Regions from separate parts of the Homo sapiens genome. Here region 1 is linked to region 2. Evidence: fine-mapped expression QTL. A gene starts in region 2. The other region holds a variant in brackets. All regions are shown on one strand. Distances are between the middles of the regions.

Region 1 (16,839 bases), 53 kb after region 2:
CAGGAAGAAAGAAAGAGAGGACTTACAAAACAACCAGAAAACAAGCAAAAAAAAATGGCAGTACTTATCAAATAATAACTCTGAATGTAAATAGATTCAATTTTCCAATGAAAAGGCATAGAGGGGCTGAATGGATATGAAACAAAGTATATGCTGCCACTTCACCTATGAGGATACACATGGTGAAAGTGATGGGGTGGAAAAAGATATTCCATGTAGCTGGAAACCAAAAAAGAACAGGAGTAGCTATTCTTAAATCAGATAAAATTGACTACAAATAAAAGACTGAAAAGAGACAAAGAAGGTCACTATATAATGATAAAGAGATCAATTCAGCAAGAGGATATAACATTACAAATATCTGCACCCAACACCGGAGGTCCCAAATATATAAAGCAAACATTAATAGATCTAAAGGGAGAAATGGACAACAATACAATAATAGTAGGGGACTGTAACTCCCCACTCTCAGTAATGAACAGATCATCCAGACAGAAAATCATCGAAGCAACACTGGAGTGAAACTGCAAATTAGGCCGAAAAATGTATCTGATGAAGCCATATTGGCTGCCCTGGAGCCTCCAGAACTGAAAAAGAGCTGCAAGTGTGTGCTGCTATGAACATCTTTCCAGAGCCTTTCCTGCACAGCTGGTATTGGCATCATACCAAAAGCAGTGTTTATCAAACTAGAGATTAAAAATCAAAATTCATTTTTGCGATAATGACAAATGCCCTGGACTTACACACATGCACTCGTGTGAGACAAGGCCCATAAGTATCCCCACCTTCCCTCTCCCAGTACTAGTTAATTTTGAGTAATTGTGTATTGTCAGAAAAGTGATCAGTATTAGTTTTTGTTTTGTTGTTCCAAAAAAAATTTTATTTTTTAATTTAATTTTTTGTTTAAAAGCAAGGCATGCTGTGTTGACTCTGTAACAGACTAATTTGAATTGTTAAAACTGCTCCCTGGTTCTATTCTGGAGAGTAATCTGGGACATTTTAGTGAGTTTTTCCCCCTCTTTTTTGGGAGGGGGAGTATGGGTGGGGTTTGATTTTTAGTCTTGTTTATTTTAATTAACCAATGGACAGCCCTTAAGGGGAGGAGGACAGATTGATTCCACATTCCACTTTTTAGATCTCATTTAGAAAACATGTTCTCAATCTGGTGCTCTTAGGAAGAAGTATAGTAAATGCTTCATTTAATAATGTGCTACTTTTTGAAAGTTGCCTTTTCTCTTTACCCTTGAATAGATCCAGTATCTGATGATACTCATGAAAGTGCGTGGAACCTGTCTTGTCCCTCCTCTTTTCTAGTATGCACTATATATGTGACTGTGACTTTCAAAGACATTTATTTGCCATTTCCTGATTTGGGGGAAAATTAATTCCTAACTTCTTTCACTAATGAAGAAAAGTATTGCACATTGGAAATACACTAACTGGATTGAATATGTAATTTTTTTTTTTTTGATATGGAGTCTCGCTCTGTTGCCAGGCTGGAGTGCAGTGGCACAATCTTGGCTCACTGCAACCTCCACCTCCCGGGTTCAAGCAATTTTCCTGCCTCAGCCTCCCCAGTAGCTGAGACTACAGGTGCATGCCACCATGCCCGGCTAATTTTTGTATTTTTAGTAGAGATGGGGTTTCACCATGTTGGCCAGGATGGTCTCGATCTCTTGACCTCATGATCCGCCTGCCTCGGCCTCCCAGAATATGTATTTTAAAATAAATTTTTCCCTGTCAGTCATTGTCTTATATCCTTAGCATAGATTTGCAACTCAGTAGTATATTTTATCCCTAGAATGAAGCTGGAGACCTGGTATGTACAGGAAATATGAGAGGTGGTGCTAGAAGACAGACATCTATGGAATGATCCATATCCTTTCAAGTTATGGGAATGAAGACCTACTTCATTAAGAAGCTGGGGGTGAAGTGAGGGTGAGGAGAACACTTAACAACATTGGGACCAGTCAGGGAATCCCCTTATTTCTGTTTCACATATGAGGAACCCTAGAGCAGCTAGATGAGGCTCTCTAGTTTAATAAAATCATGGAAAGAGTCTTATGAAGGCTCTTCATAAGTGTTAACAGGGATTTATCAGCTTATTTTTGTTGCAGTTCCCAATTTCTAAAAATGTTTAGGTAATCTTTTCCTTTCCCCAATCCTAATTCTTATAGATTCACTAGTGTTGAACCAATGCTTTCTCATGTCTCAACTCTATATATGCATTCTTTTCAGATGTATTACATTAAAAAAGCCCTACACACACACACACACACACACACACACACACACACACACACACGACTGAACCATGAAGAAATAGCCTCAATAAACCAATAATGAGTAAAAAAAAAAGTCTCCCATCAATAAATAAAAAATAAGCCCAGGACCTGATGGCTTCACTGCTGAATTCTACTCAACATTTCAAGAACTAACACCAATTCTACTAAAACTCTTCAAAAAGATTGAAGACGAGAGAAAACATCCAAACCCATTTTATGAAGCCAGAATTACCATGATACCAAAACCAGACAAGGACAGAATGAAACAAGAAAACTATAGGCCGATATCACTAATGAACATACATGTAAAAATTCTCAACAAATTTTGAGATACTAGCAAGCCAAATTCAACAATATGTTAAAGACTGTGTGCAGTGGCTCACGCCTGTAATCCCAGCACTTTGGGAGGCTGAGGCAGGAAGACCGCTTGAGGTCAGGAGTTCAAGACTAGCCTGGCCAACATGGCGAAAACCCATCTCTACTAAAATACAAAAATCAGATGTGCATGGTGGCGCATGCCTGTAATCCCAGCTACTCAGGAGGCTAAGGCAGGAGAACCGCTTGAACCAGGGAGGTGGAGGTTGCAATGAGCCAAGATCATGCCACTGCACTCCAGCCTGGATGACAGAGCAAGACTCTTTCTCAAACAAAACATTATAAAGATCATTCACCATAATCAAGTGAGATTCATTACAGGGATGCAAGGATGGTTCAACATATGCAAATCAATAAATGTGATATATCACATTAACAGAACCAAGAACAAAAACAATATGATTATTTAAATAGATGCTAAACAAGCACTTGATAAAATCCACATCGCTTTTTGATAAAAAAAAAACCCTCATCAAATTGGGTATAGAAGGAACATACCTCAAAATAATAAAGGCCATCTATGACAAACCCATAGCTAACATTATACTGAACAGGGAAATACTGAAGGCCTTTTCTCTAAGATCTAGAACATGACAAGGATTCCCACTTTCACCACTTTTATTCAATATAGTACTGGAAGTCCTAGCCAGAGCAATTACGTAAAAGAAAGAAAGAGCATCTAAATTGGAAAGGAAGAAGTCGAATTAGCCTTGTTTACAGATGACATGATGTTTTACTTAGAAAAATCCACCAAAAAACTATTAGAACTGATAAACAAATTTAGTAAAGATGCAAGATACAAAATTAACATACAAAAATCAGTAGCATGTATATATGCCAAAAGCAAACAATTGAAAAATAAATCAAGAATGAAATTTTATTTATAATAGCTCCAAAGAATATAAAACACCTAGCAATTAATTTAACCAAAGATGTGAAAGATCCACACAAGGAAGACTATAAAACACTGATGAAAGAAATTGAAGAGGACACACAAAAAATGGAAAGATATTCCATGTTCATGGATTGAAAAATTAATATTGTGAGCATGACACTAACCTTGGCTATTGACAGATTCAGTGCAATCCCTTTCAAAATACTAATGACATTTTTCACAGAAATTTTAAAAAATTCTAAAATATATATGAAACCACGAAAGACCCTAAATAGCCAAAGCAATCCTGAGCAAAAAGACCGCAGCTGGAGATATCACACTACCTGACTTCAAAATTTACTATAAAGGCATAGTAATCAACACAGCATGGTACTGGCTTAAAAAACAGACACAGAGGCCAATGGAACAGAATAAAGAATGCAGATATAAACCCATGCATTTACAGCCAGTTCATCTTTGACAAAGGCACCAAGAACATACAATGGGGAAAGGACAGTCTCTTCAATAAATGATGCCAGAAAATTGGATATCCATATGTTGAAGAATGAAACTAGACCTCTATCTCTCACAATACACAAAAATCAAATATAAATGGATTAAAGACTTAAACCTAAAACCTGAAACTATGAAACTACTAGAAGAAAACATTGGAGAAACCCTCCAGGACATTGTCTGGGCAAGGATTTTTTGTGTAAGACCTTAAAAGCACAAGCAATGAAAGCAAAAATAAATAGGATTATATCAAGCTAAAAAGCTCTGCACAGGAAAAGAAACAATCAACAAAGTGAAGAGACAACACACAGAATGGGAAAAAATATTTGTGATCTACCTATCTGACAAGGGATTAATAACGAGAACATATAAGGAGCTCAAACAATAGCAAACACACATACACACACACAAATAACCTGATTAAAATATGGGCAAAAGATCTGAATAGACATTTCTCAAAAGAAGACATGCAAATGGCCAACAGGTATATGAAAAAATGCTCAACATCACTACTCATTAGAGAAATGCAAATCAAAACTACAATATCCCTCCCCAGTTAAAATGACTTTTATCTAAAAGGCAATAATAGATGCTGGCAAGGATGAGGCAAAAGGGAAACTCTTGTACACTGTTGATGGGGATGCAAATTAGTACAGCCATTGTGGAGAATAGTATAGAGGTTTCCAAAAAACCTAAAAATAGTACTACCATATAATCCAGCAGTTTCACTACTGGGTGTATATCCAAAAGAAAGGAAATCAATATATTGGAAAAACAATACACTTATGTATATTGTAGCACTATTCACAATGGTCAAAATATGAAATCAACCTAAATGCCCATCAGTGGATGAATGGATAAAGAAAATGTGCTATATTTACACGATGGAACATTATTCAACTATTACAAAAGAATGAAATCCTGTCTTTTGCAGCAACATGGATGGAACTAGAAGTCATTATGTTACGTGAAATAAGCCAAGCACAGAAAGACAAATAACACATGTTTTCACTCATGTGGGACATAAAAAAGTGAATCTCATGAAAATAGAGAGTAGGCTGGTGGTCATCAGAGACCGGGAAGGGTAGGGTGGAAGAGGGGTTTGAAAAGAAGTTGATTGATGGGTACAAATATATGGTTTGATAGAAGAACTGAGAACTAATGTTATATTAGTATGGTGACTATAGTTTACAGTAATGTGTTGTATATCTCAAAATAGCTAGAAGAGAATTCAAATGGTTTTAGCATAAAGCAAAGACAAATATTTAAGGTGATGAATATCCCAAGTACACTGATTTGATCTTTACAAATTATATGAATGTATTATATGATCATATCTACTTCTAAACACTATGAACATCTATCACACATTAGTAAAAAAGGGGAAAAACCCCTGCTGACATCCTGATTTTAGCACAGTGAGACCTGTGTCAGATTTTTGACCTCCAGAATTGTAAGATAATAAATTTATTGTGTTTTAAGCCTTTGAATTTGTGGTAATTTGTCACAGCAGCAATAGAAATCTAACACAGTGACCAAATGGGAATCTCTGTAGAATTTTGGTGGTGAATGGTACACTGCAGTGAATTTAAGATTTGACTTTCTCCTTGAAGAATCTCTAATGAGAAAAAGAGGAAAGACAGGATTGTTAATTGCAGATCTAAATTCTTATCTAAAGTATTTTTGAGAATTATATTCCAATTATCTAACTATTGAACTCCAACAGGGTATTTAAGTATTCTGTTCCATCTTTGCTATGCCAGAGGCAGGCATTTTAGACCCCAGCTTGAACAGTAAGTCTAGGAATAGGGTTGTCTTTCCTTCCTTTTTGTGCTGTGATTTTTTAAAATTATTGTAATCAATTGCAAGTACCTCCCAGCTAAAGTCCTCTAATCAGGCAGTATTCATCAGTGATTGGGAAATAAGTTATAAGATGATTTTGTACATAGTTATTTGATTCAATTCAGCTTTATAGATGAGAGAACTGAAGTTCAGAGGAAATAAGTGATTATCGTTTGTCACATTGCTATTATCCATCTGCTATTGCCAGAGCTGGCCTGGAGCCCAGAAATCTTTTCACCACCCAATGCTATCTTTCTTCCTCATTATTACATTTCCCAGTCTGGCTTTGGGATCGGATTGCTTCTGGCCTTAGATAACCTTATCCATCCTCTAAAGCAGTATCACACATAAGAAGGAGGTAGCAGTGGACTGATAGTAGCCTCTCTACCCTCCCTTTTTAAAAAGTCTCTGACAAATAGTCTCATTGTTACTAGAGCAACGCAAAATGGAAAATGCTAATAGCAAACATATAGTCCTTATTATGCGTCAGATACTGTTGTAACTGTCTCTGTAGTAATTCATTTAATCCTCATCACAATTTTCTGATGTAGATATACTGTTACAGATGAGACCTTGAGGCACAAAGGGGTTACCTTACTTGCCAAGGTTATACTTACTTGGGATGGGTGCCATCCTTTTGTATAAACTATGATACTTTTTCTTCTTTTTATTTTGAAAAATTTCTAAGATACAGAGAATTTGAAAGAATAGTACAAGAGACACCCACAAACATATTCTTCATGAATCCAACAATTATACACTTTGCCACACTTTATATCCATTTGTGTGTGTGTATGTGTGTGTGTATGTGTGATCATTTCGAAGTAGTAGGCATCACAACACTTCAGCATCCTTTATTTTTTAAAAAATCAGATCATTGCTATTTAGGACTTTGGAATCTTTTAGTTTAATTCAGATATTCATTCACTAATGCAGGACTTCACATTGGAGAGAAGCCAACAGAGAAAGGGACAGGACAGTAGAAATTGTGTGGGAGAGTAAAATTAGTTCAAATATCTAATAGCTAGCTATACTGTACTTTAGCTATATTAGGTCCCTCAGTTTTCAAGACAACAGTATGATGTGGGTGATCTTATCCCCATTTTTCCAGATAACCTCCAGATGTAGAGATAACTTTCCCAGGGCCACCCAATCAATACACAGCAAAGCCCCATACAAATCTGGGCTGTTTGGTTCTAGACTTTGAGCTCTTTTTCTACTTTTTGCCTAGATAAACACTTTGAGGGGAAAAAAAATCCAGATTTAAGAATTTTTGCTAACCTTCCTACGGGCAAGTCACCTTCAAGTCACCTGGGTACTTAGGTATCCAACTCAAAACTACTTTTAGTTTTGTTTCGTTTTGCCTTTTTTTTTTCTTTAACCGATAACCCAATTCTAGACGGAACATAAGGTGCAAGAGAAATCCGGGGAGGTGGAGGCAGAGAAAGGGAAGGGCAGGAGGTGGTCGCAGGATGTTGCCTGCGGCTGGCGGCCCAGTGGATTCTGGGAATTGTAGTCCCAGCCATCCAGGGCATTGCCGTTCAGGGCCACGGGAAAACCTGACTGCGCTCCCAGAAGCCTCCGGTGTACCTCGCTGGGAACGCACTTCCTGGGACGCTGAGAGGGAGACGCTCCAAGAGGCTCCTCAGTGTGGGCGAGTAAAATGCCCTGCGTGTGAGAAGCAGGTAGGTGTGGTCAAGATGTTCCGATTTCTGGGTCTTTTGCATAAGTAACTGAGGATTTTATGTAAAAT[G/A]GCTAAATCCAGGAGAATCAGGAGCGTTGGAAAACGCTGACCACATCTGTGGATGTGAAAATTGAGTAGGTATTTGGTAAGGCTTTAAAAAATTATTTTGTACACAGGAGTATGGAAATGTCGAGGTGTGTTGCCGGAGCCGCCAAGGACTGGGAGCTTTGCTGGCGCGGGTTTGTGGGGGAGCCCAAGCTGCTATTTTTGAATAACCAGCTGATGCTGGTTGCGTAATGATGACCTGCTTGCGGTTCAAACCCACTCAGTGTTGCAGGGATGGGCTAGCTCTGAGAGCGTTAACAGTCACTGTTGCGGTCTCTCTCCATTGGCTCTAACTAGTAGGGCGTTTTCTTCCTTCTGCCAGGTCTGGGTCTACCACACACAGGGCTCTTCGAAAAGAGGGAGGAGGAGAGGAGGCGGAGGGGGGAGGAGGGGGGCGGAGGGGGATGCGGATTGCTCTGGAAGCTTGGTTTGCTTTCCTGTAAGTTCTGTGCACCCGGCCTTGTAAGGGGCCCATAGCCACGTTAGGGAAAGGTCAGACTTGGTGACCTCACTTAAAATGATTGCTCAAGGATTCTATTGTGCGTTATTAATTGTAAAACGATTTCCTCTGACTTTGGAGTGTGCAATTATGATTGATACCAACCCAAGAAACACATTTGGGGCGGGGGAGGGGTTGGGGGGGACTTGACTGAAATCTCCGAGCAGCCAGTTGCAGAGAGCATTCTACATAATGATCGTAATAGGGCTAGTGATGAACGCCTCAATCCAGGAAACTCTCAGGCGCACATAATAATGAGTTTCCATTCTCATCCTACCTGTTTGAGATAAATGGTATTTGAAGAGGAAGTGGCTAATGTTTAAAGTAGATATATAGAAGCATCTTTAAGTATCAGGTTGAGCCATTGGTGGAACTATTTTTTTTTTAAGCATTCTGGTTGCAAATTTCAGGATGCAGAATTCAGATCAACTTTGTCTGGTCTTGTTGTCAGTGTCCTTTTTTAAAAATGTAAAAGAAAATTTCTTTTACTTCCAAGACAACTGCACAGTCTTTCACCACCTTCCTTATCCTTTCACCGTAGTCATGAAAATGATCTAAAACATTCATTAAATATCAATCATATATTCCCAAGACAGCAAAGTGTTTTTCATCCTCATTTCTCCTATATTCTCAAGTCACAAGATGAGTTAATTTTTTTCTTCTATTTCTACGTATTTTTCTATATTCTATATATTTCTCATATATAATGCATGAATTAAGGAATAAACAGCCTTTTTATTTTTTTTTTTTTATTATTTGAGACAGATCATTGCTATGTCATCCAGGCTGGAGTGCAGTGGCATGATCATGACTCACTGTGTCCTCAAACTCCTGGGCTCAAGTGATCCTTCCATGTCAGCCTCCCAAGAAACTGGGACAACACGTGTGCACCATCACACCTGGCTAATTATTATTATTATTATTTTTTGAGCCAGAATCTCTCTCTGTCACCAACACTGGAGTGCAGTGGTGCAATCTCAGCTCACGGTAACCTCCACCTCCCAGGTTCAAGCGGTTCTTGTGCCTTAACCTCCCACATGGCTGGGACTATAGGCATGAGCCACCATGCCCAGCTAATTTTTGTATTTTTAGGAGAGATGGGGTTTTGCCATGTTGGCCAGGCTGGTCTTGAACTCGGGCTCAAGTGATCATCCCGCCTCAGCTTCCCAAAGTGTTGGGATTACAGGTGTAAGCCACTGTGCCCCTGCTAAACTGCCTTTTTAAAAAACTTACTGTCTGCCCTTTTTAGTATAACATTTCATTGGTTTTAGGTGATTACTAATCATTTCTTCTAATCCATGGGAATTCAAGCAGGGTTTTTAGAGAAGTACTATGTTAATTTGGAGTATTTTTCCTATTTCTTTAGGCTCAGATTATTGCTACTCTGTATTCAGATCTTCATGTGTCTCTTCTAAGCTGAATAAAGCTGTTTTGGAACTGTCAGGTACCTCAAAGCGTAAGTACGTCCTTTAATTATATCTTATTTCCCTCCCTCCTGCTACCACATCTGCCAACAATGACTCTTTTTTTTTCTCTTGTTCAACAAAATAGAGGTATAGGACAGACCTCTCTTGTGAGTACAATGACTGATGACTTACAGTTTCTAAGAAAACCCAAATTATAGGTAGAAGGAACTCTCAATGTTACCATCAAGAATTAAGTTAGGGCTGGGCATGGTGGCTCAGCCCTGTAACCCTAGCGCTTTGAGAGGCTGAGGTGGAAGGATCCCTTGAGCCCAGGAGTTTGAGACCATCCTGGGCAACATAGCGAGATCCTGACTGTATGAGAAAATTTTAAAAAATTAGCCAGTTGTGGTGGTACATGCCTATAGTCCCAGCTACTCTGGAAGCTGAGGTGGGAGGATTGCTTGAGCCTCGGAGGTCGAGGCTGCAGTGAGCCATGATTGCACCACTGTGCTCCAGCCTGGGTGAGAAAGCGAGACCCTGTCTCAAAAAAATAGAAGCTAGCTGCTATTAGACATATGTACTCTCGTAACTCTTGTAACTATAACTCAGAATTGTGCCTGGAAAAAATAGTACAGGGTCTATTGGATACATGACTTCCTAAAGCTCTTAGCCACTGTTCCTGCTCCAGCCTTCTTTAAATTCTATTCAAAACCACAGAAAATATATAATTTGAAAATATTTTTATTCGTAATTATGTCTCTGATAACATTTAATTGTGTATCAAATTTTATCTACTTTTCTGAGTCACGGTGGAACAGAGAGTCAAATGACAAATGTGAAGTGGTTATTTGAAATAGAGTCTCTATTTGATTTGGTCAGTATCTCCAAAGAGAATGTTCTGTCCTTCTTGTTATATGACTATAACCATCTGTAGTCATTTGCTGAGGGTCCAGAAGAAAAGTATGTTTCTAGCTGAAAAAAGTAAATAAGCCTGCTAATAATCATTACTGACTTACATTTCTGACCATATTCTGGTTTACAAAGGACTTTGCTATTCATGATTTTACTACTTTGTGGGACACTTTACAGATGAAAAATTGGAGGTTCAGAGGACATAAGTGACTTGTCCAGTTTGTAAATGATAGGTTATGAATGTTATTCAGGTCTTTGGTCTCCTGGACAACAATACCAAGCAGCCTCCTGGATGGAAACAACAAACCACTTATGTGTATGTATGACCTAGCTCAAAGCTCTCATCCAGCTAGTACTCATGACTGCTTGACAGATTTGTTAAAGTGTTCTTAGCCTTGCACGTTTTCCACAGTCCCTAATTAGGGATTTTCACATGGCAAAAAGATGTTTTTTTTTCTCCATTAAAAAAACTATATATTGTTTAGCTTTAATAAATATTAATTTGATATATTAACCACTCTTAAGAGAAGTATGTCTAATTCATGACATACCTGTTAAGTTGAAAACAGAAAAATCAATACCGGAACAGTGGACTTTTTGTTTTTGAAATGGAGTCTCGGGGTTTCACCATATTGGCCAGGCTAGTCTCAAACTCCTGACCTCGTGATCCACCCACCTCGGCCTCCCAAAGTGCTGGGATTACAGGCATGAGCCACCACGCCGCGCCAGGAATAATTGACTTTCAAACCATTTGTTGAAGTTAGACAGTGTTGCTAAACCTAGATATATATTTCTAGAATCATAGTCTGCATGTAGGTACCTAAGGATGGCCTTGTCTTTGCTAATCACAGGTTTCTGGGGTAAGAAAATGAATGTTGTTTTGTAAAATGGGAGTCTTTTGGCCAAAAAGGAGAAAGCAGGGGCACAGTCTAGAAACAGTCTGGATGTATCAGAACACAGGGTGGTGTGAATTCTCTCAAATGAAGTGAATGGAACTGAGACTAAATTTCTGTCTGTATTCTGACCAGAGTTATACAGAACCTCCATTTGTTTGTTCATTCATTCAGCAAATAATCGAGTGCCTTTTATGTGCCAGTATAGGGAACAGTGAACAAAACAAAGGGATCTCTGTCCCTGGAATTCACAGTCTGATGGGAAAGAAAACTACACTGAACAAGGAGTTATAAGAATGATCACTGCTACAGAAGAAAAAGTGCAAAAGTGCTACCACAGCATATAACCAGGGACAGGGGGAGGTTTAGGACAAGCCTCCCTGGACACTAGAAGAATGAGTAAATATTAGCCAAGCAAAGAATAGGTTGGAATTAAGAAAGTTCTAGGAGAAAGACCATGAGGGAAGGCCCTTAACCAAATCAGAAAGTGGAAAATTTGGGAAGTCAAAAGAAATGTGGTTTGGCTGCATAGACTGTAGTGTGTGGGGTGGGAGAGTGGCACATACGAAGGTTGAGAATTTGGTAGGAATCAGGTGGTGTAAGCTATGGGGAGGAGTTGAAACTTTAGAGATTTTATTCTGTGGGAAATGGGAACTTATTGAATGGTAAGAAATGGAATGGCGGATGAGGTTTGCATTTGAAAAAAATTATTGTGGATTAAAACTAATTGACACAGCACAAGAGTAGAGGTCTTTTTACCCTTGCAAGTATGAACAAATCCTAATCGGGAAGTCAGCATTATCTTTGTTTTAAAACATCAAACATATTCTTTCCCCAAACTATCCTATAAAATTTTACTTCAGGCATGGTGGCTTACTTTTGTAATCCCAGCCCTTTGAAAGGTGGAGGTGGGGGGATTGCTTGAGCCCAAGAGTTCAAGACCAGCCTGGGCAACACAGCAAGACCCCATCTCTAGGGAAAACTTAAAAATTAGTCTGGCATGGTGGCATGCACCTGTTATCCCAGCTACTCAGGAGGCTGAGGCAGGAGGATTACTTGAGCCCAGGATCTCAGCTCACTGAAATCTAGTGAGCTGTGATCATGCCCTGCACTCCAGCTTGGGTGATAGAGTAAGACCCTGTCTTAAAAGAAATTACTTTATCTCTCTGGTGGGATATATGACTTATCAAATCATAGGCATTTGAAATTAAGAACAGGGCATACAAGGTGAAGTAGCCAAAAGAAGCTAGACATTAATTCCAGTATCAGGCCAAAATTTAGCTTAAGAATTAAGGTTAATAGTACTTCCCTTCTGAAAAAGTGCCGTGGTATCCTTGTTGACTCTGTATAGATAGGCCTCTGTCCATCCCTGAGATCTGAGCTAAGAATGCTTCATCAAAGGCAATTTCAGAGAACCAATATAATATTTGTATTGATTTGATGCAGAATATAGTTAAAAGCACTTACTACTGAAATATATATTGTCGTACCTCTCTTCATTAATGTCATTTGATAGTCTATAGGCTAAGAATTATAGGAATTTATTTATTTTTCTTAATAATTAATTTTTCTTTTTTTTGTAGAGATGGGGTCTCGCTATGTTGCCCAATCTGGTCTCAAACTCCTGGGCTCAAGCTATCCTCCCACCGCAGCCTCCCCAAGTGCTGGAATTACAGGCATGAGCCACAGCACCTGGCCTGGAATTTATTAATAATGGAGTTATACATCCTGATCTTGTTTCTCACTCCATTTACATTTCAGGAATCAGTGTTACAGGGCAGTTTGATTGGAGAAATCTCAATTACATTGAAATTCCAATTATTTCTATACTACTTTTGTTTTTTGTTCCTGTTTGTTTGTTTGTTTGTTTGTTTTGAGACAGAGTCTCGTGCTCTGTCACCCAGACTGGAGTGCAGTGGTGTGATCTGGCTCACTGCAACCTCCACCTCCTGGGTTCAAGCGATTCTCCTGCCTCAGCCTCTTGAGTAGCAGGGATTACAGGCACGTGCCACCATGCCTGGCTAGTTTTTGTATTTTTAGTAGAGATGGGGTTTCACCATGTTGACCAGGCTGGTCTGAAACTCCTGACCTCAAGTGATCTACCAGCCTTGGCCTCCCAAAGTGCTGGGATTTCAGGCATGAGCCAATTCGCCCAGCCAGTATATTACTTCTGAAAGCAAGAAGGAATTGTGATTGCATTAGGACTTTGAGTGGGTTATCTGAAGACTTCTGAAGCTTGAAAGAAACGAGGGAACCTTTTTCCTATGTCTTCACAACTTTAATCAAATCCTTATTCTCCTTCATTTCTCAGTCTTTAACTCCTGCCTGATAAATTTTTATGAACAGGTACCTTATTCACTTTGCTTAACACCTAACAATAATCACTTGATACGTAGTAATTATACAGTTGATTCACCACCAACACTTTGAGTTTACATAAGACAGCCGTTTCTTTCCACAAGTCTCTATAAACACATTGGGAGCAAGGTCCAGTTATCAGTGGTCTTGGTGTCTTTCCAGGGCCTAACAGAGTGTTTTGCATATGCTAGACACTCAGCATGATGTAAGTACTTGCTGAATGAATGATTGCTTCTTAGTAATAGCTACTTCCTTGTACAGTTCTTCATTACCAGTGGCCCACCTTTGTGAGTTACTGGGGTCTTTGTACAGAGCCCAATACTCGTTTATTCAAATAATCCTAGAATCACTTGTGTGCCAGGCACACAAGTTGTATGGGGGAGATAGACAGATGAATAAGCAAAGACCACCAGAGAGCTGTATCCTAGAGCTTGGCATTTCTAGTAGCTTTTTCCAGTGCAAACATTCTCAAATCTGTACTAGTTTCCATTGCTGTACTGAGGTGTTTGGTTGCCACAATTAAGCAAGACAGCTTTTTCCCAATTTGCTTGAAAAAAATACTGTAATTAGTCTCTCCCTTTCATAAAATTTTCTTAAGAAATTGCTACTTCTGATAATACTGACAGAAGGTAACATAATAAATACTAAACTAATACTAATGGAAAAACTTAGAACTAACCATGTTTAACTTGAGGGCTTTAAAAATGGTTACTTGTGCTTAAACTCTGATTTTTATATTGTACATTTATATATGCTATTTGTGTATATTTGAATATATGTATGTACACATAGGCATTTTTTTGGTTAGTAAAATTATTCTGGCTGGGCGCAGTTGCTCATGACTATAATCCCAGCTTGTAATTTCAGCACTTTTGGAGGCCAAGGCAGCAAGATTGCTTGAGGCCAGGAGTTCGAGACCAGCCTGGCCAACATGGTGAAACCATGTCTCTAAAAGAAAGAAAAGAAGAAAGGGAATAAGAATTGTGGGGGTGGAAGGAGGAGGGCTGGTTCACACCTGTAATCTCAGTACTTTGGGAGGCTGACGCTGGTGGATTGCTTGAGCCCAGGAGTTCGAGACCAGCCTAGGCAACATGAGAAAACCCCGTCTCTACAAAAAATACAAAAATTAGCTGAACATAGTGACGTGTGCTTATGGTCCCAGCTACTCAGGAGGCTGAGGTGGGAGGATCGCTTGAGCCTGGAAGGTCAAGGCTGCAGTGAGCCATGATTGTGTCATTGCACTCTAGCCTGGGCAACAGAGTAAGACTTGTTTCAAAAAAAAAAGAAAGAAAAAGAAAAAATTATTCCTATATTATATGACTAGATTAAATATACAAATAACATTGTTTTCTAAAGAACATTGTGCCCTCCCACTGGAATTCATGCAACAATCACATTCTAAGCCAGCTTCCTAGCATTTTGGTCATAATTGTCTTTCTGATCCTGAAAGCTTGGAAACACAACTTCACCATCCCAGCAGATGTTTGATTCTGCAAAGGTTGATGGAACTGTATTCAGAAATAAAAATTATTCTCAACCTTGCCCCTTCATCATGCTCTGAACAAAAAAGTAAACCTTACTGAAGTAGTCTGCTCTATTGCCTCATAGTAGGCATTATAGAAGGCAGAGAAAATACATTTGAGTCCTGCTTTGAGAGTGAATATCAGACCCTTGAGGAAATTAAAGCTGAATAAGATGCAAGCTTTTTATAGTTTGCCATATACAGAAAAAGAACATGGCCTTTTAATTTGGAATGAAAGGCCTGGCGACTGTTTTTCTTATAATAGCATTAATAGAAATAGGTTGTCGTTACTTGAAAAATGTTTGCATTCGTCTTATATGAACAGTAGTAGTAATAACCAACAAGTGCTGTAGATTTCCCTGAAAATCTACATCTTGAATCAACAAGGAAGTAATTGGGTCATGTTGAATCAACAAGGAAGTAATTAAGCAGAATAATTTCAGGGACCATTGTTCTCATCTTTTCATTTGACTGACTCATTGGAGATGAGCTCATTTACTTTTTATAATTTCCTAGTGTGCCTAGTACATAGGAATGAGATCAGTTTGTTTTTTCTTATTTAACATTCATTCAATGAATGTTCTTTGAACTCCTGTGATGTGCCAAGCAGTGAGCTGGGTCACTGAATGCTAAGAAGTAGTTAACACTTGGCATAGCATTTGTTGTGTTCTAGACATGTTTTAAGCACTTGACATTATATTATCTCATTGAACCCATAGAACAACCCTGCAAGGTTGGCACTGTTATTTTTTCCATTTCACAGATGAAGAAAACGAGGCACAGGGAAGTTCTGAATCTGGCCCAAGGTCAGTGAGCTAGTAAGTGAGGAGATGGGGATTAGAATTCAAGCAACCTTGCTAAGAGTTGACTCTCAACCATTCCCCTGTCCTGTACTGCTTCTTTCCCTACACCTTTGCTTTTTATGAGCCACCTTCACCCCTGCTGCATGAGCATTTGAGGCTGAATTTGTGGTGTTTGTAGCTAACTGATGATTGATGAGTGGGCCCTTGCTGTGTGAGTGCCTGACACATACAGAGTGCTTGATGTATATGTGTTGAAAGAACGATTATTGACAAAAAGAAGATTGAAGGTGTGATTGTAAGAGACTTTAACATTATCTTGGTTGTTTTTTTAATTGTGAAGAAAAATACCGATGGCTAAAGATTTTAGTTGCTCTATGACCCAGTCAGTAATAACCAAATGTGTGTGCACCTGTGCTCTGAGGTCACACACACCTGCATGTATATACATTTGTACTGTACAGAGAGGAAACAAGGGAGAGACTTTCCCTCTTTGCATTGACATTTCATCATTAGATGTGTTGCCAGTTGGCACCACCCTTCCTGCTCTGTTCTGCTATTGTCCCCTCATGATTTGTCCTCTTGTGTGTCACCCCCTAGTCTGACTGACAGTACTCCACAAGCTTGCCTGCCATGGGCTGTCGGGATGTCCACGCAGCCACAGTCCTTTCCTTCCTGTGTGGAATCGCCTCAGTAGCAGGCCTCTTTGCAGGGACTCTGCTTCCCAACTGGAGAAAATTACGATTGATCACATTCAACAGAAACGAGAAG
Region 2 (16,800 bases):
TAAATCCACTTTTTTTCCCTCACATAGGCCTTGTTTGAAGACAATAATTACATGGCCTGAGGCCCTCTCTTTGAGAATACTTCATTTTTACTCAAAGAGGTCTTACCTAGTATGTAAACCTCATTTGTTTGATCCATTTAACTTCATCATTTGGGAGATATAATGGTTCTCAGACTTGTAATATTTTGACGGCATGAAACAAATAATATTTGATTTGTTACATCTGAAGGATTATAAGGCTAATGAGTAAGAATAACTCGATGCTCCACTTCAGGTGATTCGTATGCTATAGGAGTTAGCAATCTAGTTCTTGTCTTTCGTTTGAATAAATTAACAAATATTCCTAGAGTATCTACTGATTACAAGGCCTGAGCCAGACGGACCTTGTTAGGGACTCTTGAACAAGCAGAACTAAAAGCATGATAGACAAAAGGTAGAAATCTAATTAAAAGCAGTTGAGATGATGACACAAGATCAATTGAAATAATCTGCAAAGCCCAGAATGAAGTTAGACACTTTTCATTTTAGTCTGCTGACAAAATTAAGCAATATAACATCACAAAATATTAGATTTGTTAATTATATATTTGTCTATTTTATGCTTAAGTGTATCTACATTAAATGTTAGATTAAATGCAATGTGGTGTTAGTATTAGACCCTGGAGTAAAGTCATAGGTGAAAAACCAGTGAAAGCAAATAGTCTGTAGTTTAGTTAATATTCTAGCAATATTAATTTTTTTAGTTTTGAAAAATGGTTATAAAAGATGTTAACATTCGGGCAAACTGGATAAAGATTACATGGAATCTCTTTTGGCTATTTTTGTAACTTCTGTAAATTAAAAAGTACTTCAAAATAAAATTATTTAAAATTGTAATTAGAACAACTCTATATTAAATTTTTTCATAACCCTCATTATTGTGTGTGTGTGTGTATATATGTATATATGTATATATGTGTATATATGTATATATGTATATATGTGTATATATGTATATATGTATATATGTGTATATATGCATATATATGTATATATGTGTATATATGTATATATGTATATATGTATATGTATGTATATATGTATGTGTGTATATATATGGTTTTGTTTTGTTTTTTTTTTTTTTTTTTTTGAGACAGAGTCTCTCTCTGTCGCCCAGGCTGAAGTGTAGTGGCGCTATCTCGGCTCACTGCAAGCTCCGCCTCCCAGGTTCACGCCATTCTCCTGCCTCAGCCTCCTGAGTAGCTGGGACTACAGGCGCCCACTATCACGCCCGGCTAATTTTTTGTATTTTTAGTAGAGACGAGGTTTCACCGTGTTAGCCAGGATGGTCTCCATCTCCTGACCTCGTGATCCACCCGCCTCGGCCTCCCAAAATGCTGGGATTACAGGCGTGAGCCACTGCGCCTGGCCTGTTTTAAAATATTTTTAAAACCAAATTGTGAGTCATGTCGATGGCTTATTTGGGACTTTATTCAAGACTCTTTAGTGCCACTGACTTTAATGGTTTGCCCATACATCAAACTGAGCAACCCTAAGGAGGCATTCTTTCCTCTTCATGGCAGAAGTAGTAGTATTTTCCAACAATGACTTCTGCCTTAGGTCTGAATAGTGTCCTAAACATTTTGCCTCATGTTCATTTTAGCTGCACATTTTAAAGGGGACAGTTTCCAGTTACACAATGTTTCTTTTACTATCTGGTAATGAGAGTTATAATAAATACTTCAGGCCCTGACCACATTTTGTCAGAGGTAAATATTATGCTTTCTTTTTTGTTTACAGTACACAATGATCCTCATCATTTTGAGATATTTCTATATCAATCTCCCATTTTTTTTTTTTTAGTTGCTGTGATCATTTCCCCATGTATATGTTATGTGAAAGAAAAGTATTTGAGATTGTGTTCACTAACAAGAAATAGGCATTGGAAAATAAGTACATTGGGCTCAACACTATTCTGACACAATAGGAAAACCTAGTAAGATAGTAATCTTAATGGCAGCAAATGTCATTAAATTAAAAACATCTACACAGCAACAACCTAATGTTCATATTAATGAGAGGTAGGAACACTGATAGTAATCAACATCTGTTGCTGGTGTTAATATTCAACATTAAAGTAATCCACAGAGGGAAAATACAACTACTGCAGGTTAAATGACAACTACAGCTTTTCTGATTGGTGGTTGTAAGCAGAAGGTCCAGTAGCAGCAAAGTAATCAAGACGGGGTTTTCACATCATGTCTTTCCAAATAATCACTGTCCTAAGTGAGGAGTAGAAGACACTGTCACATTGAGGTATTAGTCAGTTTTCACAGTGCCATAAAGAACTGCGCAGACTGGGTAATTTATAAAGGAAAGAGGCTTAATTGATTCACAGTTCTACATGGCTGGGGAGGCCTTAGAAAACTTATAATCATGGCAAAAGGGGAAGCGGAAACAAGCACCTTCTTCACATGGCAAGCAGGAGAGAGAAGAAAGAAGGAGGAACTTCCAAACACTTATAAAACCGTCAGCTCTTGTGGGAACTCCCTATCAGGAGAGCGGCAGGAGAGAAACAGCCCTGCATGATCCAATCACTTCCCTACTTCCACAATGGGGATTACAAATGAAGATGAGATTTGGGTGGCGACACAGAGCCATATCGTATCAAAGTATGAAAGGTTTCTAGGATTTATTAGTTTGGGTTGTTAAGAGTTATACGGCTGGCAACGCTGTGCAGGGCCGTTTACTTCAGCTGCATACATTTTTTCGCTGCATGAGGGGTTGGGGAGAGCTACTCTCTTCTGGTCCTGAAAAGTAATCAAGAGAGAGAGGGATTTTTCACATCGTGTCTTAATTCTCACAAAGGCACGCTTCAAATGACGGATAAAAACCCGTCTTCCCGACTCCAAGAAGCTACTTTCTGACAGTTGTAAACAAGCTTCTTTCTCTTACTGCACAGGAGAGTCCTCTTACAGATCTCAGATCCTGACATTATTTTCAATAAAACTTTGTGCGGCCGCTAGTTTTAAATTCATGGTCTCCTGGAAGCTTTGGCTGGAGACTACTCAGCTCGTCACTGAACTAACGGCTTTTGGGGGTTCTTTTTTCCCAGTTGAGTTTCTGTGTCTTTTACACGTTTGGTTTTATGGTCCGTTGGAGGTTTTTTCACGCTGAGGGTGAAGATTCTTAGTTTCCTCAATTAGCATAAAAGCTGCTCCAAGGCTGCTGAGTCTTCAGTTCCATTCCATTCAAAATGTTAATTCCTGAGACACGCAACCTACGCCCTACTGTCCTTTGTCCCACGGCTTCTCGAGATTATCTCTGTGTTTTAATAGATAAAACGCCTTCTCTCCCCACCCGTGGGGTGCAAAGCACAGCGCATGGGGCTGGTGGCGCCCGAGAGCATCACACAACGCATGCGCCAGTCCGCAGGTGTGGGCGGAGGAGAAATCGCGTCGGCGGCAGGGGATGACGTAAAAAGGCCGCGCTGTACTGCGGCTTGTGCCGCTTCCGCAAGAAGGTTTCCTGGCCTGTTGCAGCCATGGTGCATTGCAGTTGCGTGTTGTTCAGAAAGGTCCGTGCGGGTCCCCTCAGCCTGGTCCCCTTAGCGCTGACAGCTCTGGTTCTTCTTTGCTCCCCTGTCTCTCCACTACTGTCTTCGTGGCGGCCTTTTCCTTGCTTGGTTTTCCCATAGACTTCTCCGCCCCTCCTGTAGTGGCGCTTTGTCAGTAAGCGGTGACAGTGGTGTGTGTACCTGGCGTGGTTTGGACGGTTGTTTGGGGGCAGGGGCAGGGTTTGAAGTTCTTTAGAGACATAGTGTGCACGTGGTATGAGGAACTGGGATACCTGCCTGCTGTGGCCCAAATGTTGTGGTGGTTTTTTTTCCTTTAATGTCCACAGCCTGTTTTTATATATTTCTCCTTGAGTGCGCTGTTTAAGGTTTTTCTAATGGATTTTTATGAAGACACGAAAGCGTGTAATTGATGTGCCTTCCTGCAGAACATTTAGGTCGATTTTTGTGTGGTGTCGGTCTTAAGAATCGTTTCCGTAAAAATTTACAACTGCTTTGAATTTTTATTTTTTAAATCTTATCCTATCAGTAATGCTTTTTGAAACGTTGCCTGCGTCATATTTGGCCATTACTTTATTTCTAACGACCAGAGTAAAATACTCCTTTTAAGTAAGGCTCCTAAACCCCTGAATCTGATTAATCTAGAGCAGGAAAAAAGTGTTACATATTTAATGGAACTGTAGAAACTCTCCTCGAGTATATCAGAATGGTCAATATTTCAACTTTCTTGAAAAAAAAATCCCATTTGTTTTTTATAATAGCTATCCTAAATGACTAGAGATGTGGATTATGAATTTAAGAAATTACTCCTTAAGTTATTTTGATTTTAATAGCCTAAGAGGTTAATACGTAAGTCCTTTACCTACAAGAAGTTCTTGATTTAGTGAAGGAAACAGGTAAACACTAAATGCAGCGTGAGATTTATAAAGGTGTAATAATAGAGATATAATCAAATTGCTGGGAGAGCCAGCAAAGTCAGAGAATTGATTAGAGGAATTTGGAAAGACGTTAGAAAATATGACGTTTAGGTGGATTTATGATAGGAAAAACAAATGACATTCTAAGTAGAGGAAAAGCATGAGCAGAATGGCATGTAGAAATGGCGGTATTTCATGTAGTACAGAGCAAAGAGGAAGAGAGGAAGGGTTGAGCAAGTGAAAAGGATACAGGAAGGAACTAGGCATGGTAGGTGAGCCTATTGTTCTTGCTACTTGGGAGGCTGAGGTGGGAGGATCCCTTAAGGCCAGGAGTTCAAGACCAGTCTGGGCAACATAGCAAGACCCCATCTTTAAAACAGTCGGGGTGGTGTGGTGCCTGTAGTCCCAGCCATTTGGGAGGCTGAAGTGGGAGAATTGCTTGAGCCCAGGAGTTTGAGGCTGCAGCAATGATAGTGCTATGATAGTGCCACGGCACTCGAGCCCAGGCACCAGAACCAGACCCTGTTTCAAAAAAAAGAAAATAAAAGATACCAGAAGGGTATTTTAGTAGCTTTGGATATACAGTTGACCCTTCAAGAACATGGGGGTTAGAGATGCCCCCGCCACAGCTGAAAATCTTCATGTAACTTTCAACTCCCCCCACAAAACAACTACTAATAATCTGTTGGCTGGAAGCCTCACTGATAACATAAGCCGTCAGTTGACACATATAAAATATATATATAGTATATACTGTATTCTTAAATTAAGCTAGAGAAAAGAAACAGTTACTAAGAAAGTCAGAAAGAAGGGAAAATATATTTACTGTTCATTAAATGGAAGTGAATTGTAAAGGTCTTCATCCTTATAGTCTTCATGTTGAATAGACTGAGGAGGAAGAGGAGGAGTTGGTCTTGCTCTCTTGGGTGGCAGAGGCAGAAGGGGTGGGGGTGGAGGAGGTGGAAGGGGAGGCAAGAGAGGCAGACACACTATGTGTAACTTTATGGAAGTACATCATAATTTCTGTCATGCTTTTGCTTTTCTCTTTCCCCCAAAAAAATGTTTCTATAGGGTACCAATACCTCTTCCACCATTTGCTTTGGTTTCAGTGCCTCTTCACAGAAGGGTCCATGTCATAAAAGAAGTCAAAAGCAGTCCTGAACAATAGGAGCTCTTCTGCCAGATTATCTAATGTTCGTTTTTCTGGTAGTTTATTCTGTGTTTTCTTCCTTGTTATCTGGCACTGGATCTGAAGCACTCATCAAGCTGTCTTCTGTTAATTCCTCTGGTTTGGTGGCTGTTAGCTCTTGAGTTTCTTCAAGATCCATATCTTGAAGTCCTTTACCCACTTTCCCGCCGTTTTTGGCATATTCACAGCCTCTTTCATGATTTCCTTGATTGGCTCTTTTGTAAATCCTGTGAAATTATAACACAACACAACACCTGGACAAAGTTTTCTCCAGCACGAACTTACTGTTTGGGGCTTATGGCTTTCATGGCTTTTTCAATAATAATGGCATCTTCAATTATGTAAACTTCAGATTTTCCTGAAGTTTTCTCTATTAGTGTTCTTTTCCATGGTTGACAATCCTTTTCGTAGAAAATCATGTTTAATGAGCCTTAAAGGTCCTTGCGACCCCGTGATCTAGAGGCTGATTTACAGACATTGTGTTTGGGGGCAAGGACACCACTTCAGTGCCTTTGATGTTGAACTCATGGGGTTCTGGGTAGCGGGGAGGTGGGGCACTGTCCATTAGCAGAGGAACTTTACAAGTCAGTCTCGTATTGGGAAGGTACTTCCTGACTTCAGGGAGAAAGCATCCATGGAACCAATCCAGAGAAAAGGTTTTTGTTCTCTAGGCCTTCTTATCCAACAAAGACTGGCAGCTGATGTTTATCTTTCCCTTTCAAGATTGAGGGGTTAGCAGCTTTATAGATAAGGACAGTCCTGATTACAAACACAACTGCATTTGCACAATACAGTAGGGTTAGCCTATCCCTTCCTGGCTTAAATCCTGGTGCTCCCTTCTCTTCCTTACTAATGTCTTTTGTAGCATGTTTTCCAGAATAGGGTACTTTCATCAGCATTAACAACCTGATTTGGGAGATATTCTTTCGTCTCAGTGATTTTCTTAATGGCATCTGGGAACTCATCTGCTGCCTCTTAGTTGGCAGAACCTGCTTCACCTGTTATCTTGATATTTCTAAAGCCAAAGCCAAACCTATTTCTTCTTTTTTTTTTTTAAATTATACTTTAAGTTCTAGGGTACATGTACACAGCGTGCAGGTTTGTTACATAGGTATACATGTGCCATGTTGGTTTGCTGCACCCATTAACTTGTCATTTACATTGGGTATTTCTCCTAATGTTATCTCTCACCCAGCCCCCAACCCCATGACAGGTCCCAGTGTGTGATGTTCCCCCCGTGTCCCAAGTGTTCTCATTGTTCAGTTCCCACCTATGAGTGAGAACATGTGGTGTTTGGTTTTCTGTCCTTGTGATAGTTTGGTCAGAATGATGGTTTCCAGCTGCATCCATGTCACTCATCCTTTTTATGGCTGCATAGTATTCCATCGTGTATATGTGCCACATTTTCTTAATCCAGTCTATCATTGATGGACATTTGGGTTGGTTCCAAGTCTTTGCTGTTGTGAATAGTGCCACAATAAACATACGTGTGCATGTGTCTTTATAGTGGCATGATTTTTAATCCTTTGGGTATATATCCAGTAATGGGATGGCTGGGTCAAATGGTATTTCTAGTTCTAGATTCTTGAGGAATCTAGAACTGTCTTCCACAGTCAAACCTCCTTCTAAAATTATCAAATCATCCTTTGCTGGCAATTAATTCTTTAGCTTTAGATCCTTCACATTCCTTTTGCTTTTAAGTTGTCATATGGTAACCTTACTTTTTCTTTTATTGTATTAGTCTATGTTTTTAAAATAGGAATCCTGCATCTACATAAAAGTTGCCTTTTTAATACAAGATAAAAAGTTAATTCACAAAAAGTGCAAGGTTTTCACACCTTTTGGCATAGCTGCTGCAGTGGCTTCATGAATTTTTGTCTTTTTTTACACTGATTCTTATTCTGGATTCATTTATCTTGAGATAGCAGGCCATCGCAGCTACAGATTTTAATCTGTGGTAGATATCAAGCAATTCATCTTTTTATCGTAGTGTCATGACTTTACTTCTTGGGAGCACTGCCAGCATCACTAGTGGCACTTTGTATGGGTTCCATGGTGGTGTTCAAGGTTTACAGTGTAGCGCTGAACATGATGAAAAATGCAAGAGAACTGTGAGAGATTACTTTTTACTGACTTATAAAATGTACTGGCAAGATGAACTGCTCATGGGGAGACGATTAGCATCACATGGCCTTTTAAGTGGCAACTTGGGACACTTGAGATCCCGGGATAGTTACAGGAGGTAACTACGAAATTATTACAGTATTCCACGATGTACTACAGTTAATTTTATGCAGTTATGATTTAATACTGCATTTTTACATTTGCTTACATTTCTCTTGACTGCAAATGCTGCCATGTAAGATCTGTAAGTGTGTGTGTAAGTTTTGATAAATTTTAAGTTTTTATAATAGATGTGTGGCCAGGTGCAGTAGCTCATGCCTGTAATTCCAGCACTTTGGGAGGCCAAGGCAAGAGGATTGTTTGTGGCCAGGAGTTTGAGACCAGCCTGGGCAACATAGCAAAACCCCATCTCTAGTTTTTAAAAATTAAGATAGATATGTGTATATTTTATGGAAGTAAATGACAAAATAGATTAGCATCTATATATTTTTTGCACTCATAACACACAGCTTTTCTTAATTTTTTCAATATTTCCAATCTATTTGCTTTGTAAGTTTTTTCAAATTGTTGCAAAGCTCAAAAAATTTTTCTAATATATTTATTGAAAAATATCTGTATATAAGTGGACACACGCAGCTCAAACCAGTGTTGTTCAAGGGTCAACTGTAGTACTAAGAATTTTTTACTTTATTTCATAAGCATTTTTTTTTTTGAGACGGAGTCTCGCTCTGTCGCCCAGGCTAGAGTGCAGTGGCTTGATCTCGGCCCACTGCAAGCTCTGCCTCCCAGGTTCATGCCATTCTCCTGCCTCAGCCTGCAGAGTAGCTGGGACTACAGGCGCCCGCCACCACGCCTGGCTAGTTTTTTTGTATTTTTAGTAGAGACAGGGTTTCTCCATGTTAGCCAGGATGGTCTCGATCTCCTGAACTCGTGATCCGCCCACCTTGGCCTCCCAGAGTGCTGGGATTACAGGCATGAGCCACTGCACTTGGCTCATAAGCATTTTTTTAATGCATGGTTTTTGAGTAAAGGAGAAACATGATTAGAGATCAGATCAATTTCAGAAAAATAGTTCAGGCAACAAGTTGGAGAATGCAATAAGGAAAAAATGCCTAAACACTGAAAGGAGCTCATGTGGTGCAGGTACTAGGGCAGTGGTACTGGAGAGAAGAGAGTAGGGCTTTGGGAAAAGAAGCAGGTGTAGTCTGAAAGACTTCCATTTGTGTAGTCTCAATGAATATGTAAACCATGGTTCTGTTACTTTAGAGAACATTGGAGGAACAGATTTTACCTGGGGAAGAGTTTGGTTTTGTTATGTTAACATTTATTTTTGAGGTGGCTATTATTCAACTGATATGTAAGAACAAGTTTCATATTGGGGAATTTCAAATATAAGTTAAATACACATTCTGCTCACATTTGCTTTATACTATTAAAAGCTTTCATCCTGGTGGAAATGTCTGACAGATTGGACATAGAAAATATCTCACCTAGGTGATGGTTATTGGTACAAGCAGAAATTACCCAGGGGAGAAAGTCTAGAATGAAAACAGGGCCAAGTCAGAAACCCTCAGGATAGGTGGGACAATAATTGATAACTGAAAAAACTAAAAGGGACTTAAGAGAGATAATCAAATGGGAAAGGGGGTCAGATCGGAGATGTGGAGGTGAGCTAAGAAAATGTTATAGAATTGGCATGTGAAAAGCTATTAACGACTTTTTTAGAAGAAGTTTTAGTGGAAGAAAGAACTAGAAAAAGGTTCTAAGGTGATACACTTTTGGTATACAAATATTCTTTCTCTTTTTTTTTTAAGTATGGAAATTTCATCGATAAGCTAAGACTCTTCACCAGGGGAGGATCCGGTGGAATGGGTTATCCTCGTTTAGGTGGAGAAGGTGGAAAAGGTGGTGATGTCTGGGTTGTAGCCCAGAACAGAATGACTTTAAAACAACTTAAAGACAGGTATCCTCGGAAACGGTTTGTGGCTGGAGTAGGAGCAAACAGCAAGTAAGTAATTACTGAATGACTTAAATTTTAGAAAATCAAACCCTTCTGGAAATTTTTTTTTTAGTTACAAAATAAAAACTTAATTGTTAATTTGAAGTAAATTATTTCCTGTATTTATAACCAAGCAAAAGCCTAAAATGTCTCAACTCATAAAAGACTGATACTAAAGAATATTTCAGAGTTTTAAAACTTTCTGTCCGTTTCTTTTCCCAATGTCTATCTGTATTCTTTTTGCACTTCCCCTGTAGAAACCGATAATTATCTGAATTCCCACTGTTTTCTTCTAAAATTATCTTTGACAACCTTTTAGAAAACTTTCAGTCTTAACCATGCTACTCTACCCCACCACCATTAGAAGGCAAGATAACCACTATTAACCTTTTCTTGACTTTTCTAAGACTTTTCTGTGTGTTTACACAAATGCAATTATGTGCCTAAAAGTTTAGAATACAAAAATGAGAGTACAGTATTTTACAATCTGCTATTTTTACTTTTTTTCACATGTCAAAATTATTCAGAATACCTGCATAATAAATAACTATTTTGTCATTTGTCTATTTAGGTTATTGTTGATTTTTTTTTCCGATTATAACCACAGTGCAGCATTCTGTGTAGATACTATTTTACATGTTTGTTCAATTATTATTTTGATAAATTCCCAGAAGTAGAATTACTAAAACATTTGTACTAATTTTTTCTTTTATGAGCAGTTTAAGAGTAGCCAGATTTGCCTTCTATAATGTAAGTACTCTCATTTGAGGTTAGTTTTTTAAAAGCTTTGCTATTTGGTGGATTTTCTTTTTTTTTTTATAGATTCATTTTTTCTTTTTTTTTTGAGACAGAGTCTCATTCTGTTGCCTAGGTTGAGTGTAGTGGGCACTATCATAGCTCACTGCAGCCTCTACCTTTCAGGCTGAAGTGATCCTCCCACCTCTGCCTCCCAAGTAGCTGAGACTACGGGTATGTGCCACCATGCCCAGCTAATTTTTAAATTTTTCTTTTTTTGTAGAAATGGGGTCGTGCTATGGTGTTCAGGCTTGTCTTGAACTCCTGGACTCAAGAGATCCTCCTGCCTCCGCCTCCCAAAGTGCTGAGATTACAGGCGTGAGCCACCACGCCTGGCTTTTTCTACCCTATTTGTATTGTAGCAATAATCTCTTCATTTCATGGTTGCAATATTTTAGTTTCGGGTTAAAATGACCTTTGGTGGTTAGCTTAGTAACTTAAATCATTACTTAATGCCATTTTAGTGGGATATAATAGTCTAAAATGCAAAGAAATAATTAGGGATAATTTTAGTTTTTTTAAACCCCGTGTTTGACCATTTAACATCTGCGTTAACCAGAGAATTGATTGCTACTCTTCTTTGTAAACCATTTTGTGTGTATGTGTGTGTGTGTATATATACACACACACATACATACATATATATACTTTTTTTTTGGTAGAATTAGTGCACTGAAAGGCTCCAAAGGAAAAGACTGTGAAATCCCTGTGCCTGTGGGTATTTCAGTAACTGATGAAAATGGTAAAATTATAGGTGAGTGTACTATAACTCCAAAAGTTGTAAAAATGTGCACGTTTTCTAAAATGAAACAATGGAATAGCTTCTCTTGAGTTTCAGAAGATTTTTTAACTAACAATTTTAGCTACTATTCTATAAGAGAGCATTTTTAAAACTTATAAAAGTTAAATTGACTGCTAGATTTAAGATTGTTTTAAAGATGTTACAGTTCTTACTTGGTCTTAAAATATATAACTAGGCTCTTTTCAATTGTTTACTGAAGTGTTTTTCTGGGGTCAAACTTTTAATAGATTTGTAAATTGGAATTTCCTGGACTGTTTTTCTGAAAGAACAATATTACATTAATGATTCTACTTATTAATTATAGATTTGTAATTGAGAATTTCCTGGCATGTATTTTTGAAAGTAAAATATTACATTAATGATTTCACTTACTAATCTATAGATTTGTAATTTTGCATTTCTTTGCCTGTATTTCTGAAAGAAATATATTGCATTAGTGATTTCACTTATTAATCTTTGCTGTAAGTATTTCTCTCCCTCTTTTTAAGGAGAACTCAATAAAGAAAATGACAGAATTTTGGTAGCTCAAGGAGGTCTTGGTGGTAAATTACTTACAAATTTCTTACCATTGAAAGGCCAGAAACGAATAATTCACCTTGATCTAAAACTTATAGCTGATGTAGGCCTAGTAGGGTAAGTATCGTTCATATTTTTATTATTATACTTTCAGAGAGAGAGTTCTTGAATAGAAAATAAATGTAAATGGTAATTTGGGGCCATAATTATTTCTAATTTATGGAATTTGTGTGTTGTGTATGTACTTGGAAAATATGCTGCTAAATATTATTTTCAAATTGCCAACACAGAGTTTCATAGTTATTGCTTATTTATAAAATTAAGACCAGAGCAATTGAATAGATCAGTGGGAATGTTAGAGAATGCATAAAGAAAGAAAAATCAATCAAATGCAATATTACAAGATGGTTAAATAATGTTACCAGATATTAATAATAAATCCAAACAAACCGTATTATTATTAAAAATATATAGAAGGAAATAAACAGGGAAAAATGGTTGACATAACTCTTTTGGGTCTTAATAGAGACATTAAAGTATCGTTAATCAAATGGCTAAAGACCAGTACAGACAATCTCAATCCTCAGACTTACGCACTGTTGCCGCCAAATTGAATCCTGCTATGACTGTATATCCTTCTTGCCTCTGCTTAGGATCTATCTAGTCTCAGCAATGTAGGCCTCACAAGAGTGTCCTCTTCCACCAGCCTCCATTCTTTCATTAAATAATGCTGTTTAGCTGTGGGGTTTGCAGTGCAGCTGCCCACTGGAAGGGGATAGATAGTAAGATACAGAATACATAAAGGAAGAGAAAACTTCAATTTGCATTTGCTCTCTCTCCCCCATCCCCCCTCCCTCCTATCCTCTCCCTCTGGCCCTATCACAGTATTACACAGTTATTCAGATGGAAAGCTTAAGGACAAGATAAGGAAAACTGCCTTATTACTGTCCTACTCCAAATTCCTAGTTCTATTTTTTGCTTCCCCATAGCTTCTTTCTAAGTTCTTTTCATGTTCCTCTTCAGTCATCTCACTGCTTCTTTACCAGACTCTTAAGTCTGTATCCCTCGTCTTTTGCCCTGCCTGACCAGCCACTAGAGCTTACCACCATTGGTTTAGGGTTCACAGAGGCCCCATTCCTGCTAAAATTATAACAAGGAAAGATGTGATCCTGGCTTGCCATTTACATTTATTTTTTTCAATAAAGCACAGTTACAAGAGTTATTAGATGTAAGTTCTATAATCCTCTATATTTTTAGGAACATTATGGGCTTAATAGGGTCTTATGGACAAGACTGGCAGTCCAGCCAATCACAGTTGCATTTTGCATAAACATGTGTTTCAAGTTCTGAAGAGACAACTTTACAGTCTAAGAGGAGCCTAGCACGGCTTAGTCATAAAAGTGGAGTGGCATGGAGGACTCAGGTTAGACTATTTAGGTTAGGATCTCAAATCCTCTGGAGGCTGGCCAGCTGGTCTTGGGTAAATTACACAGCCTCTCTAAGCCTTTGTTTTCTCTTCTTTTTTTCTTTTCTTTTCTCTCATTCTTCCTTCACTATAGTTTTTTGCTTTTCACCACGTCATTTGTTTTCTCATCTTTAATAGTGTATGGAGATAAGTCTTTCCTTAAAATGTTGGTGGGTAAGATAATGCATTTACAGCAGAATACATGCTTTGCATTTTTGTACGTTCAATGAATTGTAGCTGCTATCTTCATCATCATTATATTGCCAACTTACTGGAAAACTGCATATAATGAAATACTAGGCTTTTCAGAAGTAGGTTTGAAATTTGTCTGTAATTAAAGCATCAAGATTCTTAAGCATATCAAACAAGAATGGGGGAAAAAGATTTTTAAGTGGAATGTTTAACATATTTTCTAGTGTTTTTAAATTAGGCAACTATTCTTGAAGAGTTACTACTATGAATACTAGCATAAGTAGATATCCTTTTAGCTGGTTTTGGAAATGGACTGAATCACAGAAGAAAGTTATTGTACAACTAACAGATTTGTGCTGCTGTTGTCAGATCTGATCTTTGCATAGGTTGGATTTTAGCCTGTAAAATTTTCACTGGGTACTTTTCAAGAAAAATTTCAAATATCTGTTATTCAGTCATTAGCATCATCTTTCTATTCATACTTTGATCTTCTTGGAAATAGTTGCTTGCATTATGTGCTCAATCATTATGAAAATATGAGGATGTTGGAAACAAGCAAGTCCAGCTAGTGATAATTATGGATAAAAACAGCTGCAATTTGCTTTTCAAAAGCTATAAGAACCTGGATGAAACAGGGTATGAAAAAACTATATGTTCCAGGAGAAACAAGTCATTAAGAAACCTCACATAATTTTATTTTAAATTCATGACAGAAAGATTTTTTTAATGAGGGAAATTGTTGAAATACCTCCAGCTAATACGCTTTTATAAAATTCCAAATTAATATTTGCAGAATATTCCACCATTATTCCAAATGAAAGTTTGGCAGAGTTTTTGAAGTACCGTCTTCAAATTTGAATAAGAACTCTGTGAAGGCGGGAATCATTTTGTCTCATTGCTCAGTATGTTGCCTGATACGAAGTCAGTGCTCAATAAATATTTGTTGGATAAATTTAATGAAAATATATGAATGAGATTTAGCAATGAATGTTTTAAGTAACCCCCATTCCTAGTACTGTCTTTCATACATGGTGGGCCTTTCTTGAGGGAAATTTAGCAGTATAATCAAAGCCTTTAAAATGAGCATGTATTTTATCTGGTATTTCTTCATGTAGACATTTATTCCAAGAAAGAAATCAAAGATGTGTGCAAAGAGAAGTCTTAGCCAGAACAATCAGGCAAGAGAAAAAAAGGGCATTCAAATTGGAAAGAAGGAAGTCAAACTATCTGTTTGCCCACCATATGATCTTATACCTTGAAAACCCTAGAGACTCCTTCAAAAGACTCCTAGATTTGATAAATGAATTCAGTATACTCTCAGGTTACAAAATCAGTATACACAAATCAATAGCACTGCTATACACCAACAACAACCAAGCTGAGAATTAAATCAAGAACTCAATCCCTTTTACAATAGCTACAAAAAATAAAATACCAAAGAATATACGTAACCAAGGTCGAGAAAGATCTCTACAAGGAGAACTACAGAACACTGCTGAAAGAAATCATAGATGACACAAACAAATGGAAATACATCCAAAGCAATCCTAAGCAAAATGAACAAATCTAGAGGAATCATATTACCTGACTTCAAATTATATTACAAGGTTATAGTAACCAAAACAGCATGGTATTGACAGAGAAGTAGGTACTTAGACCAATGGAACAGAATAGAGAACCCAGAAATAAAACCAAATACTTAAGACCAACTGATCGTCAACAAAGCACACAAAAACATAAACTGGGGAAAGGATACCCTATTCAAAAAATGATGCTGAGAAAATTGGATATCCAAATGTAGAATAATGAAACTGCATTCATATCTCTCATTATATACGAAAATTAAGATAGATTAAAGATTTTAATCTAAGACCTGAAATTATAAAAATTCTACAACACTTAGGAAAAACCCTTCTGGACATTGGCCTAGACAAAGAATCTGTGACTAAGATCTCAAACCAAATGCAACAAAAATACATAAGTGGGACCTAATTAAAGTAAAAGTCTTGTGCACAGCAAAAGAAAGAATCAACAGAGTAAACAGCCTACAGAATGGGAGAAAGTATTTGCAAACTACGCATCTAACAGAGGACTAATATACTGAGTCTGCAAGGAACTCAGATCAGCAAGGAAAAAACAATTCCGTTAAAAAGTGGACAAATGACATGGACATTTCTCAAAAGAAGATATGCATACAAATGGCCAATACGCATATAAGAAAATGTTCAACATCACTAATACTCAGGGAAATGCATATTAAAACCACAATGATTTACCAACTTAGCTAGAATGGTCATTATGGAAAAGTCAAAAAACAATACGTGCTGACATAGATGTGGGGAAAAGAGAACTCATACTTTTTTTTTTTCTTTAACTTAAAAAAATTTTTTTTATTATGCTTTAAGTTCTAGGGTATGCACAACATGCAGCTTTCTTACATAGGTATACATGCGCCATGTCGGTTTGCTGCACCCATCAACTCGTCATTTACATTAGGCATATCTCCTAATGCTATCCCTCCCCCAGACCCCCACCCCCTGACAGGCCCTGGTGTGATGTTCCCCACCATGTGTCCATGTGTTCCTTGTTCAGCTCCCACTTAAGAGTGAGAACATGCAATGTTTGGTTTTCTTTCCTTATGGTAGTTTGCTGAGAATGATGGTTTCCAGCTTCATCCATGTCCCTGCAAAGGACATGAACTCATCTTTTTTTATGGCTGCATACCATTCCATGATGTATATGTGCCACGTTTTCTTAATTCAGTCTATCATTGATGGACATTTGGGTTGGTTCCAAGTCTTTGCTATTGTGAATAGTGCCACAATAAACATACGTGTGCATCTGTCTTTATAGCAGCATGATTTATAATCGTTCGGGTATGTACCCAGTAATGGGATGGCTGGGTCAAATGGTATTTCTAGTTCTAGATCCTTGAGGAATCGCCACGCTGTCTTCCACAATGGTTGAACTAGTTTACAGTCCCACCAACAATGTAGAAGTGTTAACTATTTCTCCACATCCTCTCCAGCACCTGTTGTTTCCTGACTTTTTAAGGATCGCCATTCTAACTGGTGTGAGATGGTATCTCCTTGTGGTTTTGATTTGCATTTGACGGCCAGTGATGATGAGCATTTTTTCATATGTTTGTTGGATGCATAAATGTCTTCTTTTGAGAAGTGTCTGTTCATATCCTTCGCCCACTTTTTGATGGGGTTGTTTGTTTTTTTCTTGTAAATTTGCTTGAGTAC

Evidence for each region. PIP is the estimated chance that this variant, and not a neighbour inherited with it, causes the effect.
Region 1: its variant is fine-mapped to the expression of GTPBP10 in whole blood (INTERVAL, PIP above 0.99). The same link has a PIP of 0.9 or more in T cells, aorta, blood mononuclear cells, breast, cerebellar hemisphere and esophagus mucosa.

What each region holds. Positions count from the first base shown.
Region 1 is chr7:90,395,976-90,412,814 of GRCh38, forward strand. CLDN12 (claudin 12) reads left to right here and starts at 7,486. Exons shown (of 4, transcript NM_001185072.3): 1 at 7,486-7,574; 2 at 9,544-9,633; 3 at 16,032-16,074; 4 at 16,669-16,839. The coding sequence starts at 16,702. It also overlaps the pseudogene LOC101409256. RefSeq lists an enhancer at 7,666-8,191. The variant G/A (reference allele first, on the strand shown) is at 7,643.
Region 2 is chr7:90,343,219-90,360,018 of GRCh38, forward strand. GTPBP10 (GTP binding protein 10) reads left to right here and starts at 3,498. Exons shown (of 10, transcript NM_033107.4): 1 at 3,498-3,556; 2 at 9,598-9,791; 3 at 11,240-11,331; 4 at 11,868-12,012. The coding sequence starts at 3,524. It overlaps LOC107986715 (a long non-coding RNA gene), which reads right to left and starts at 15,820. Exons shown (of 4, transcript XR_001744961.2): 1 at 12,489-15,820. It overlaps LOC101927446 (a long non-coding RNA gene), which reads left to right. Exons shown (of 6, transcript NR_110085.1): 6 at 1-876. RefSeq lists enhancers at 2,964-3,103, 3,314-3,743.